Linked DNA regions of Homo sapiens. The gene in region 2 interacts genetically with the main gene of each other region. Each region holds a gene or a part of one and is shown on either strand. Other genes may lie near its edges.

Evidence for each region.
Region 1: of HJURP (region 2) and CENPA, changing one enhances a phenotype caused by changing the other (phenotypic enhancement), as found in Homo sapiens cells (one study listed by BioGRID).

What each region holds. Positions count from the first base shown.
Region 1 is NC_000002.12:26,782,152-26,789,076, reverse strand, and holds the start of CENPA (histone H3-like centromeric protein A), read right to left. Parts: upstream 3,022-6,925; 5' UTR 2,881-3,021; coding exon 2,781-2,880; intron 1-2,780. UniProt on the Homo sapiens protein: Histone H3-like nucleosomal protein that is specifically found in centromeric nucleosomes. Replaces conventional H3 in the nucleosome core of centromeric chromatin that serves as an assembly site for the inner kinetochore.
Region 2 is NC_000002.12:233,851,517-233,858,897, forward strand, and holds the start of HJURP (Holliday junction recognition protein), read right to left. Parts: upstream 3,020-7,381; 5' UTR 2,985-3,019; coding exon 2,868-2,984; intron 2,395-2,867; coding exon 2,328-2,394; intron 1,106-2,327; exon of another isoform or gene 1,105-1,105; coding exon 1,049-1,104; exon of another isoform or gene 1-1,048. UniProt on the Homo sapiens protein: Centromeric protein that plays a central role in the incorporation and maintenance of histone H3-like variant CENPA at centromeres.

The DNA of each region.
Region 1 (6,925 bases), about 210 Mb from region 2:
AGGACAGCTATGAAGGGAAGTAGAGGGAAATGGGAGGTATAGGGAAGTGAGAATGTGGGGTCAAGGAAACACTCCTGCCCTTTCTCTTAAGATCGTAAATACGGCCAGGCGCAGCGGCTCAGGCCTGTAATCCCAGCACTCTGGGAGGCCAAGGTGGGCGGATCACTTGAGGTTGGCAGTTGGAGACCAGCCTGACCAACATGGTGAAACCCCGTCTCTACTAAAAACACAAAATTAGCCGGATGCGGTGGTGCATGCCTGTAATCCTAGCTACTCGGGAGGCTGAGGCAGGAGAATCGCTTGAACCCGGGAGGTAGAGGTTGCGGTAAGCCGAGATCACGCCGTTGCTCTCCAGCCTGGGCAACAAGAGGGAAACTCCGTCTCAAAAACAAAAACAAAAACAAAACAAAACAAAACATCATAAATACTAGAGCATATGTGCCGATGCCAGTGTGAAGTGTCTGGATTTATCTAAGCACAGGTAGAAAGCTCCTCTGTAGGTGAAAGAAGGATATGACCAAGACCCCATGTAGAAGGAAGGGCTTTGATAGGAAGGGGGACACCTAGTCAAGGCCATTATTGGCTAAGAGTGAGTGGGGGGAATGGAGCTGTAGGAAGTCGAGGAGGGAGAAAAAGGTATGAAATAGTCATGGGGAGAATGGAAAAGCAAGAATTCCAGACAAAGGCCAGGCACGATGGCTGTTTTTTTTTTGTTCTGTAGAGACAAAACAATTTGTCTCTACAAAAAAGGTTTAAAAATAGTCAAGCATGGTGGTGCAGGTCTGTCATCCTAGCTATTCAGGAGGGTGAAGCAGGAGGACTGCATGAGCCCAGGAGGTCAAGGCTGCAATGAACCAAGATAGCACCACTGCACTACAGCCTGGATGACAAGAGTGAGACTCTGTCTCGAAAATTGAAGAAAGAATACCAGACAAAGGTGGTAGGACTGCCAAGAAGTGTTGACTGCCCATTTGAGATAAACCTTCCATTTAACCAGGAGTAGAAGGATGCTTCTACCTTGGAAAGCAACAGCAAACATCATACTTAATATTCCTGTTAAAATTACAAACAAGACAAAGATGACCAAAACACCACTCTTAGTGAGTCTCAGGGCCTTACTAGTACCATACAATAATAAATAAAATGTGTAGAAATGAAAACGGAAGATTCAAAAGTTATTTGCAGATGACATAATAGTCTACTTAAAAATTCCAACTGGAGCAACTAAAAACGACTAGGGTGAACGAGAATTCAGCAAGTTGGCTGGAAGCAAAGGTTAAATCCTCGTGTTTTGGGAAAGAAAAAAAATCCCATTCGCAACAGCAACATCTAGAAACAACCTACTCCAGCCTAGGCAACATGGCAAAATCCCACCTCTACTAAAAATACAAAAAATTAGCCGGCATGGTGGCATATGCCTGTAGTCCCAGCTACTCGGGAGGCTGAGCTGGGAGAAGCACCTGAGCCTGGGAAGTTGAGGCTGCAGTGAACCCTCGTGGCATCACTGCACTCCAACCTGGGCGATGGGTCTCAAAAAAAAAACAACAAAAAACCAAAAAGCCGGCCGGGCGCGGTGGCTCACGCCTGTAATCCCAGCACTTTGGGAGACCGAGGTGGGCGGATCACGAGGTCAGGAGATCAAGACCATCCTGGCTAACACGGTGAAACCCTGTCTCTACCAAAAATACAAAAAATTAGCCGGGCGTGGTGGTAGGCGCCTGTAGTCCCAGCTACTCGGGAGGCTGAGGCAGGAGAAGGGCGTGAACCCAGGAGGCGGAGCTTGCCGTGAGCGGAGATCGCGCCACTGCACTCCAGCCTGGGCGACAAAGCCTGACTCCGTCTCCAAAACAAAACAAAAAACCCAAAAAAGCCTGTAGGCACAGTGGCTCATGCCTGCAATCCCAGCACTTTGGGAGGCCCAGGCAGGAGGATCACTTGAGGCCAGGAGTTTGAGACCAGCCTGGGTAACACAGGGAGACCCAGTCTCTACAAAAAGCAATGAAACAAATAAACTACAATACACTTCCCATCTTCCTCATAGCTACGTAGCAAGAGTTAAGAGATAAGTAAAGCAGCTGTTGCCACCATGTACCATACAGGCATCTGCCTCCTCCTGCCGTTGGGTCTCCCATCCACCAGCCCACCATAGACAATTAAGACACAGACTTCGGCCCCTTTTCCCGGACACAAGCTCTGGAAGGCAACAGAGTGAGCAGCGCAGAGGGCCTCGGTTCAAGGCCTAACAGCCTCTCCCGGAAGGGAAAAAAAACCCCTGAAAGACACCTCCTAAGAGGACTCCTGTTTGAAATCGTCACCGAAAGCAGTCAATACTTTTGCAATTTAAAAATGCACAAACACAGAGGATTGGAAATCCCGTGTCCGCCAGAACACCAAGTTGTGTGACTCTGCTCAAGCTCTCTGGCCTGTGCCTCGGCTTTCTCATTAGCTGTAAAATGGGCACAATATGAAGCTGAGATAACGCACGAACAGTGGGAGGCAATGCCTGGTTGGCGGTGGGCGGTGGGCGCTGGGTAACCACTAGTCCTAACAAGAAGACGGCGTTAGGAGCCAAGTGGCTAAGCCGGTCCCTTCCCGCTTTCGGAACCGCCTGCTCCAGCCCCTCGCAGGGCTGGCACCGCCCGTGCCCGGAGCGGATGCCGGACGGCGGAACCGCGTTGTCCCCCAACAGGGAAGTGCCACGGGATCGGGACTCGGGAGATCCGGGCTCCGCCTGCGAGCCTCGGTTTTCTCCTCTTCGAGATGGGGCCGCGGCCGGTTACCTAAGGAGGGGCCCCGCCGGGAGGGGCCGGGGGTCGGGGTCGGGCTCGGGCTGCGCCTCCTCGGGGCCTCGGGCTTTCGGCTCCGGCGGCGCGGGCCCATGACACGCCGCAGAGGGTGCTGGCGCCCGGTCCCACGGCTCCTGCTCGGGCTGCCGGGTCCGGGAGCGAAAGGCTGGCTTCTGGGGAGCCCAGAGAACGCTGTGCCGCGAGCCTCACATGAGCCGGTGCTTGGCAGAAGTCCGCGCCGCTCGCGTTCAAATCGCTCGCTCCGCCCACTTCACGGCCGGCGTTTTTTAAAACCCGAATCCAGCGACTCCCAGTGGCTGACTCTGGAACGCCCCTTACGTAGAGCGACTGCAGGTAGGGCCAATGAGAGTATGCACCGAGACACAAATATAGCGGCGATGATAGGAGGACAGGGGAGACTGATGGTAAAATCAACCAATAGACAACTAAAGAGATGGGGCGGGAAATTCTCCTGCCCCCTGCTTGCCAATCTGGTTGCTGGTCTTTGCGGGACCGTACTGACGTCCTCAGGTGCCCTCCAGTCAAAACACCGAAGCTCAGTTTGGAACGTGGATGGTGTGTTTGTAGAACGTGCTTTCTAGAAAAGTCGCTTTCCTCAAACATTTTATGCTTTGCCTTAGCAACGCAGAGATGGCTTTTAAAGATGAGGAAACAGACCCATAGAGAATGTGACAACCCCGTGTCGTATCTGCGACTCTCCCAGGAACTATCCACAGATATACTCAGAATCCAGTTCAACTGCATAAACTTTGCTGACGCTTGGGGTCGCGGGGACGGCGGGATCGGCGGGGCTTTGAGAATAAGGTCCGGGCAGGGCAGGCCTCGGCACTATAGCAACGCAATCGTCCCAAAAAAATGCTCTCTTCCCTTTGTTGGGGATAATAAAAATTCAAGTCATGTCCCGGTATGTAGAATAAGGGGAATTTTAATTTTCTAAATTTTATTTCTTGCATTTTCTAAATGTTCTACAGTGAACATGTAATCAGGAAAAATGTTATAAAATTAGTGATTTCATGGAACCCTTGTGCATTGCTGGTGGGAGTGTAAAATGCTGCGGCTGCTGTGAAAAATAGTATTGGTGGTTCCTCAAAAAATCAAAAATAGAATTACCAGATGATCCAGTAATTCCACTTCTGGCTAAATATCCAAAAGAATTTAAATATAGCCAGGGACTTGAACAGATATTCTCACACCCATGTTGATAGCGGCATTCTTCACAACAGCCCGAAGGCAGAAACAGCCTGAATACACACCAACAGATGAACGGATAAACAAAATGGGGTGTATACCACAATGTTATTCAGCCTTTAAAAGGAAGGGAATTCTGACACCTGCTGCAACATAGATGAACCTTGAGGACGTTATGCTAAGTGAAATAAAGCAGTCCACCAAGGGACAAATGCTGGGCTGGGGTGCGGTGGTTCATGCCTGTAATCCCAGCGCTTTGGGAGGCCAAGTTGTTCGGAACCACTGAGTTCGAGTTCGAGTCCAACCTGGCCAACATGGCGAAACTCCATCTTGCCGAGCGTGGTGGCTCACGCCTGTAAACCCAGCACTCTGGGAGGCCGAGGCAGGCAGATCACCCGAGGTCAGGAGTTCAAGACCAGCATGGCCAACATGGCGATACCCCGTCTCTACTAAAAATATAAAAATTTGCCAGGTGCTGTGGCTCACGCCTGTAATCCCAGCTACTCAGGAGGCTGAGGCAGAGTTGCTTGAACCTGAAAGGCGGAGGTTGCAGTGAGCCGAAATCATGCCACGGCACTCCAGCCTAGGCGACAAGAGTGAGACTCTGTCTCAAAAAAAAAAAAAAAAAAAAAAGAGAAGGGGAAGGAGAAGGAGGAGAAGGAAGAAAGAAACCCCACCTCTACCAAAGATACACACACACACAAATTAGCCCGGGCGTGCAGATGTATGCCTGTCGCCCCAGCTACTCAGGAGGCTGAGGTGGGAGAATCGCTCGAGTCCAGGAGGTTGAGGCTGAACTGAGCCATGATTGTGGCACTGCACTCCAGCCTGGGCGACAGAGTGGCACCTCTCTCAAAAAAAAAGAAAAAAAAAAAGGACAAGGCCGGGTGTGGTGGCTCATGCCTGTATAATCCCAGCACTTTGGGAGGCTGAGGCCAGTGGATCATGAGGTCAGGAGATCGAGACCATCCCGGCTAACCTGGTGAAAACCCGCTTCTACTAAAAATACAAAAAATTAGCCGGGCGTGGTGGCACGGGCCTGTAGTCCCAGCTACTCGGGAGGCTGAGGCAGGAGAATTGCTTGAACCTAGGAGGGGAAGGTTGCAGTGAGCTGAGATTGTGCCACTGCACTCCAGCCTGGGCAATAGAGCAAGACTCTGTCTCCAAAAAAAAAAAAAAAAAAGGACAAATACTGTATGAGGTACCTGGAATAACGGAACTCATAGAGACAGAAAGTAAAATGGTGGTTGCCAGTGAGTAAGGGAGGAATGGGGAGTTAGTATTTAATAGGTGGGGAGTTTTAGTTTGAGAAGATGAAAAATTCTGGATATGGATGGTGGTGATGGTTGCACAACACTGTGAACGTGCTTAACGCCACTGAACTGTACACTTAAAACTGGTTAAAATGGTAAATTCTATGTTGTGTGTGTGTGTGTATATATATATATATATATATTAACCCCGCCCCACAACCGGGTCTTGCACTATTGTCTAGGCTGGAGTATAGTGGTGCAATCACAGCTAACTGCAGCCTTGAACTGCTGGACTCATGCAATCCTCCCACTTCAGCCTCCTGAGTAGCTGGGACTAACAGGAATGTACCATCACACTTGGCTAATTTTTTTTTTTTTTTTTTTTGAGATGGAGTCTTACTTTGTCACCAGGCTGGAGTGCAGTGGTGCGACCACCACTCACTGCAACCTCTGCCTCCCGGGTTCAAGCGATTCCCCTGCCTCAGCCTTCCAAGTAGCTAGGACTACAGGCGTGTGCCACCACGCCCAAAGTGCTGAGATTACAGGCGTGAGCCACCGCACCCTGCCACTTGGCTGATTTTTTAAAAAACATTTTGTGGTGCCATGGTAACTCTGGCTTATCATATAGCCCTTATTATATAGTCATGTATATATAATAAAGGCATTATACAGTTCCCATGCTTAACAATGGGGATATGCTCTGCGAAATGTGTTGTTAGACGATTTTGTCATTGTGCAATCATAAAGTGTACTTACACAAACCTGGATGGTATAGTGTATCACACACCTTGGCTATATGGTATAGCCTATTGCTCCTAGGCGACAAACCTGTGCAGCATGTTCCTGTACTGAATACTGTAGGCAACTGTAATGCAATGGTATTTGTGTATCTAACATATGTAACCTAGAAAAGGCACAGTAAAAAAACAGTATAAAAAATGGGCTGGGTACACTGGCTCACCCCTGTAATCCTAAAATTTTGGAAGGCCAAGGCAGGAGCATTGTTTGAGCCCAGTAGTTCGAGATCAGTCTGGGCAACGTGGTGAGACCCCATCTCCGCAGGAAATAAAAACAATTAGCTGGGCACGGTGGTGCATGCCTGTAGTGCCAGCTACTCGGGAGGCTGAGGCAGGAGGATCACTTGAGCCCAGGAGTTTAAGGCTACAGTGAGATAGGATCATGCCACTGCACCCCAGTGACAGCAACAGATCAAGACTCTGTCTCTAAAAAGAAAAATTTTCCTTCTTCAATAATAAATTAATCTTAGCTTAATGGTAACGTTTTAACTTTATAAGCTTTTGAACTGTAAAATTTGACTCTTGTAATAACACTTAGCTTAAAACACACACTGCAAGTATACAAAAACATTTTTTCTTTATATCTTTTTTTTTTTTTTTTTTTTTTTGAGACGGAGTCTCACTCTGTCGCCCAGGCTAGAGTGCAGTGGCCCGATCTCGGCTCACTGCAAGCTCCGCCTCCCAGGTTCACACCATTCTCCTGCCTCAGCCTCCCAAGTAGCTGGGACTACAGGCCCCCGCCACCATGCCCGGCTAATTTTTTGTACTTTTAGTAGAGACGGGGTTTCACCGTGTTAGCCAGGATGGTCTCGATCTCCTGACCTCGTGATCCACCCACCTCAGCCTCCCAAAGTGCTGGGATTACAGGCGTGAGCCACCG
Region 2 (7,381 bases):
AGGAAGCCACAAATAGCTAATTGCCTATCAACAGGAGAGCAGTTAAAAAAACATGATTTTTTAAATAATTATATAATTTTATAATTATACAACAGTTGATGAAGAGAAGAGTTTGCCAGATGTATTAACCGGAAAAGTGAGGGAGAAAAAAATGCATTTATAAAGATATGTATTATAGGGAATCACATTGTACTAAAATAGCATTAGTGACCATCTTTGCAGAGAGGAATCAGCTCATTTATGTAGTTGTATGTACTTTTAACATTTTTATGACTAGAATAATTAATCAAGAAGATTTGATTTCAAATTTGCTGTTAATATCGTCACATTGATCTTGATGTTTTTCATTCTTTCATACAGGTTCCTTGACCTGTGACCACAGAGAGGAACCATGTGGCATCTGAGAGGCAGTGATTAACTGAATACCAGATAACCTGGCAAAAGCCACTGTGGCAAAAGGGCTCCTGGATGCCCCCGTAGAAAGGCCAACAGCACCTTCCACTAAAATAACGGGTCTCAGAGCGACAACACCCTCGGATCAACTAGGCAGGGAAGCCAGGGTCTTCCGAAGGTAGAAAAATGCAGAAGGAAAGATGTGTGATCCTCCAGGCTGCACCTCTCCTCATCTCTCTTCCTCCCCTTTCAAAACAGGAAGAGAGACATTCTTCTTCCCTAGAAGGAACTGGATTTGGTATTTTCTGTAAGGACCCAAACAAAGTGAGTGCCTCGCTGGGCTGGCACGTGACCTTGGGGAGGGTTACCCAACTGGCCCAGCCTCTGCACATGTATTATCAGAGCCCCTCAGCCTGTGACACAGGAAACACAGGGTGATGAAAAAGGCCAAATATTACACAGTGACTCCTTGCACTTGACAAGCTACAGAAGAAATGCTTCTAAATCCTTAAAAACAGAAAGAGTATAATCATGAGAAAAAGTGCCCCGTGGTGGCCTCTGCGTAAGCTCAGAGGTTGGGCATACCCACACCTTTATTCATATGAATACTCCTCCACAGCAAGGTTATTTGGCAATAAAATTTGACACTAAATACCTGGATCTCTCCTTCGTTTCTTTCCTTTATTAGTCTTCCACCCCAAATTCTCAATCCTGAAGAAAAGAAACAAAAATGACCATTTACATAATCCTGAACGCTGAACTTCTGCTCAATCTGTGTTCACCAGATGCCAAAGTGACAGGCAAAAAAAAGGTACAATATTAAAACCAAGCCAGGTTTCTGATACCCTGCGATTGTTCCTCTTTGTAAAGTTTCAGGTTTTTAAGGCAAATTCGTCATTCATGGAAATCTCTCCTACCTACTAGAAAACGGCTCATCAAATTACATCATTAGCCCAAAAAGTTAAATGAAAACAAGGAACATATGACAGCGACTGTCCTTAAAATATATAGAGGGCAATCTATATACCATATAGAGGGAGTAAGCACTTTTCGCAGGCAATCTCTACATCCCATATACTGAATGAATGCTTTCTAAGGGCAATCTACATGTTATACAGAGACCAAAGGGTAGCAGACCTGCCACTGGAATATTTTAGTTTCTGCCTGTGTAAACTTTTCACCCAAGATGTGTCTGGATTGGCTATAAAGGCAGAAAGGTAGGATTTCTTTTAACTCAAGGAGCAGATCTTGTGAACCTTCTGTGTCCGTTTAATGCAACATAGAACTTGCTCTGAGGTTTGTTTTCATTAAGTGATACTGAGTTAGTTATAAAGCTATATGGGAGGAATTGACCCCAGCCAGTGCAAAGTGTCACCAGCTATTTACCAAAAAGAATCCACAAGATTTCAGTCCGTTTACATTAACTATTAAACGGAATGCCTTCTCCTCCCTATTCAAGTACTTGGAGCCTCAAGGAAGACAGTTACTACTCCAAGTTAAACAGGGCAAACAATAGTCAATGTGAGTATTCACAGTGCGGGGCGGGGTACTGTTCACAGTTTCATAGGGATTGTACGTGACTGTTACAACACCCACGCCCAGGAGACATTATTGTCATCATCCTTCCCATTTCACAGATGAAGACACTGAGACCAGTCCAGCTAAGCAACTGCCCCACGCTGCCATGGTGGGGAGGTGGCCAGCGGGGATGCCAACCCGGTAAGCCGGAGGCATGTGAGCCAGGAGGCACCTATGTCTCTTCAGGAATTGTTCTAATAAGTAATTCAAGTAATTTACAGGTTTAAGGGCACCAATGTTTTGGTTCCTATTAGTTAGGTGAACAATGTTTACTTCTTAAGAGAGCAGGGACAGCATTTCAACTACTCCATTCACACTCTTCACCCGAATACTCAGAAGGTGGGGAAGACCCTTACCCTGTGGCGTCTCGTAGGTCAGCGTGGCCATTTGCACCACCGGGGTGTCCTCGAAGGGCTGGTTGTACTGCGGAGGAGGAAGGGGCTTCCTGTCAGGTTCCAGGGCCACGAGGGGCCCCAGACCCGGGAGGAGGCGGCGCCAGCCCGTGAGAGGCCGTTAGTCTGGCCTGGGGCGCCCCAAACGCGGTCTCTGCAGCGGAGCCCCCAACTCCGCCTCTCTCGTCCCACTCAGGAGCACCCCCAGCCCCACCAAACCCTCCTCTCTGCACCCGAGCCCCAGGCCTGCTTCCCCACTCCCCGTTCCGGAGGCCCCAGTCTTTCCTCCCCGTCCCCGCACCGAAGCCTTCGGCGCTGCCTCCTTTTTCCCTCTCCGGAGCCCCCAGCTCCGCCTCCACCTTCTCTCCGCATCCAAGCCCCAGTCCCGCTTCCCCAACCCCCGCTCCGAGTCCTCAGAGCCCCTTCCCTTCCCGTCCTACGTCCCCTCCCAGCCTCACTCCGACACGCAGGCCTCCCCTCCCGGCGGACCGGCGGGGGCCGCACCTTCTCTATCAGCCGCTGCATGCGCCTCTGGAAGCGGCGGCGACTGGCCCTGAGCTTCTGCAGCAGCTGGTCGTCTTCCACGTCCTCGCCCTCCATGGCGCGCAGCGTACCCAGCATCGGACCCAGCCAGTACCCAAGCGCCAACCCGGACTGCAGGGCCTCGCGCGCCACAAACTCAAATAGGAGACTCCGCCCTCCCTGCCTTCCTCTCGGTTTTCTATTGGCTAGAGCGGAGAAGCCGGGCACTGATTGGGCCTTTCAAACAAATTTGCGTCCCACCTTCCGGCCAATCCACTCCCGAGTTTCCAGCCACGCCCCAATGTCCGGCGGAAGGGAGGGAGGGTCTCCGGCCGCCACGGCCGGTGGTAGTTGTACAAACAGCTGTGTGCTTATTCATCAGCGGTGCTGTGCGAGATCCGGTGGGATGCGTGTCATCTCCCGCGCTGTGCACCGGAGATAAGTGCGGCCTGGAGATTTCTGCGTGACTTGCTCTGGGTGTCGCCGCTGGGCGAGGTCCGCCTTCCTCACCCCTCCGCCTGGGATCCCGGCGCAGTTTCCAGGGCAGGGGCCTAAGAAAGACAACCCCAAATTACCAACCCAAAAGGAGGCAGGATAGCGAATATTCATCTAGAAGGAAAAAATAAGTCTCAACGAATGACACATTTAAAGATGCTGACAAATGCGATACACATCACAAAATCCAGGAAAATACTTCTATTAACCCAGCTTTTTCCCTATGTATTTCTGATTGCATATTCTGCTTCTTCATTGATATTAATCTTGTAATATTTTCTCCAGAGAGAAGAGCAAGATAAATCAGTCTTTAGTATGGTTGATGGAATTTATGATTGACATCTTAGGAAAGTTTCATTCAGCTTCATCACTTAACCACATTTGTGTGCTTGTGCTGATATGATTACCATAGTATGTGATTGAAAATAAAAGCATTACTGAGCACCAGGAGGTCCCTTAGAGGGGGCTCTTCACCTCCTTTCAGCCTGCACGGCAATTCTATCATGATGTCCTGCGGAAATTTAGGTGGGAGTGGGTGGAGGGTAAGAACTTCAGGGCTCATGTAGTGTGTGTGTCCACAAAACGTGTTGCGTTGTGCTGGACACAGAGATGTGCTGGCCTGATTCCCCTTAAGATGCCACAGCTGCTAGGAGGGCAGTTGGCAGGGGCCTTCAGTTGTCAGCCTATTCTGGGATGATTCAGTTGCAGAGAACTCCCTCACCCAAGGTCCTGCTGCCCCAGGGTGGCCCAGCACCAGTGACTGATCCAGGTGGGAACAGGAAGGCTGTATCATTTCAGTCTGATGGAAGAAAACCCTGGGCCACTTTATCTTCCGAGCTCTCAATTCCACGGAATTGGATGGGGTAACCTACCAATCCTGTTTCTTTCCTTCCCTTCCTCCCTATATAAACATCCTCTCTGAGTCTTCTCCAGTTGCAGGATCTACACATTTAACTTGTACCTTTTCCAATTTTCACAAACAGACCGAGGTGTCTTCCTCCTCCTTCCTTAGGAGTGTTCAGAAACTTAACATGCTCTTCCTTGGACTCTGTGCTTCCCACACATAATTTACTTTTCAAACATCTAACTGGGCCCATTTAGAGACTTGAGACCTTGAATAAGATTTTCTTTTTTCTTTTTGAGTTTTGGATGATTGACTCTTCCATTGTTACCAGATAGAGTTGTCCAGGTTCTTGGTGTGTTGAACAAAGAATTGAACAAAACACACAAAGTAACAAAGGAATGAAGCAACGAAAAACAAAGCAACAGGAGAACGGAGTAAGGAAAGCACAGATTCATTGAAGACAATTCACAGAGTGCGAGCGGACTGGAGCCCGCAGCTCAAGAGCCTCTTCAATTAGGGTTTTTATAAAGCCAAAAGAACTTGGCAACACCCCTGGGTACCCTTTAGAGGCCTCCAATTGGTTACACCCTATGAAGGATTGGCCTGTGACCAATCAGAGCCTAAAGTGGAAACTTGGCCTGCAGTCATTCAGGGGCTGAAGTGGAAACTTCTTTCTTGTTATCACGGGAGTGAAGATGTAGCCTATGTCCTGCCCAATCTTGCTTAAAACTGGCTGCACCTGCTGTTCTCTTGCTTATGCGAACTGGCTGCATCTGCTGTTCCTTTGCTTATGCCTCAACCCTTTGCTACCCCAGTTCCCTATTCTCCTGCCTCACCATGACTCTCTAACAAGCACGATAGTACCAGTTTTCAAAACTGGCGTCTCCCAGGGCTTATTCTCTATTCCTGGGAAACCATTCCAAGATTTCCTTTGCTGGCTTCACTGACAATCCAAGCATCTGCCTCTGTCCTAGGAGTTTGGGGGCAGCTTCAGTGGAAAGATTTCTCAATCTCAAGTTCAAGTCTTTAATTGAAGTCCAAAACATACTTGCTTTAGCCAAACTCCTTCTGAGCCAGCCAAAGTCCATGCATTAACCCTTATTGTTCTGGCCTGGTGGTCTTCCAGTCGTCTCTGACTGGCTTTCCCCATCCCATGGTCTAAAGTGGTGCTCCAGCTAAAGAAAGAAGAACCCTGTATCATGCTTCTCATGTGATGCTGTAGCAGGACAAGCCGCAGACAAAACCCCTCAGACACCGAGTTAAAGAAGGAAGGGCTTTATTCAGCTGGGAGCTTCGGCAAGACTCACGTCTCCAACAACCGAGCTCTCCCGAGTGAGCAATTCCTGTCCCTTTTAAGGGCTCACAACTCTAAGGAGGTCCATGTGAGAGGGTCGTGATCGATTGAGCAAGCAGGGGGTAAGTGACTGGGGGCTGCATGCATCAGTAATTAGAATGGAACAGAACGGGACAGGGATTTTCACAGTGCTTTTCTATACAATGTCTGTAATCTATAGATAACATAACCGAGTAGGTCAGGGGTCGATCTTTAACTACCAGGCCCAGGGTGTGGCGCCAGGCTGTCTGCTTGTGGATTTCATTCCTGCCTTTTAGTTTTTACTTCTTTCTTTAGAGGCAGAAATTGAGCATAAGGCAATATGAGGAGTGGTCTCCTCCCTTAATGCCATTCTCTGTAACACCTCACCCTACCACCCTTGGCAGCCTAACCATATTACTCCAGACCTGCTAAGCAAACTCCTTTGCCACCACTTTCCACTCCCACATAACAGGGAAGGATCACAAGTCAGCTCCTTCCCCAGCAGCAGGTTTCTGGGTGCAGCATCTTGGAATCTCACAGGGTTTCCAGAGATGACGGCGGGTGGCTCCGGCTGCCCCTGCACAGTGCCCTCTACTGGCCGGGCTGGGATTTCCAACCCTCCAAGTGCTGTTTAAATGCCTAGGAAATAGTTCTCTTTAAAGTTATATTACGGCTGCTCTTATAAAATGTGCCTGAATTTTGCTTCAAATAAAAGAGATGGAGACTTATTCTGCATGGAGTTGTCATGTAAATATGTTTCTGTTGGAAAGGTGTGGAAATGTTACCACCAGTCTGTGGTTGGAGAAGCGCAGCTTTTGGCTGGTCCCAGCATTGACACAGAAACTGCTGTGTAACGGTGAGAATGTCAGTCTAAGATAAATTATCGCAAACATCAGACCCCACCTATTAGGCTGCTAAGAAAAGGGTTTGCTTTTTTCTGTTGCCCTAGAGCTGATGCAAACACAGAGGCTGTGAAATAGGCAACAAGCTGACTTTCCACGAGATGTCAGCCAAAGCTCACAAAATGTGTTGTTTGATTGAATGAGTCTCACATCTAACTGAAGTAATTAAGGATGCTGGCAAGAATTTAGCTGGAGGATCTTTCGTGAAGCAGTTTATAAAGTCCAATACTAGAAGGATGGCAAAATAAATGATGATAGATACTTGTGTTCTATTGGCAAGAATTTTGAAGAAGTGTAATTATTGATATCAAAATTCTATATGATCTGTTTAATACAAAAAGGTTATAAACCTGTATTATGTGTGCATTTAAAAAGTATATATTATATAATATAAAGTATGATTATACATGTTTTAAAAGTGTGAGTATATACGTCTCAGAATGTTTCCAGGGCCGTCTCTGGATGATGGTGTGATGAATTATTTTTAATATTAGTTTTCCATAGCTGCATTTTCTAGAATGAGCGTTTGCTGTGCAATTATGAGTTTGCATTACTGATGTAATTAGAAAACACAGGGGGCCAATTATCTTAGTTCATTTTGTGCTGCTATAATAAAACCTGAGAGTAATGAACCTGTAATTTATAATGAACAGAAATTTATTTCTCACAGATCTGAAGACTGGTGAGTCCCAGCCAGACTGAGTGATTGGCCTGTGGTGAGGGTCTGAGTGATTGGCCTCTGGCGATGGTCTTCTTGCTGTGCCATCTCATGGTGTAAAGTAGGAGAACAAGAGAGGGCAAGAGAGAGCAAAAGGGAGCCAAACTCATTCTTTTTTTTTTTTTTTGAGACAGTCTTGCCCTGTGACCCAGGTGGAGTACAATGGCATGATCTCAGCTCACTGCAACCTCTGCCTCCTGGGTTCAAGTGATTCTCCTGCCT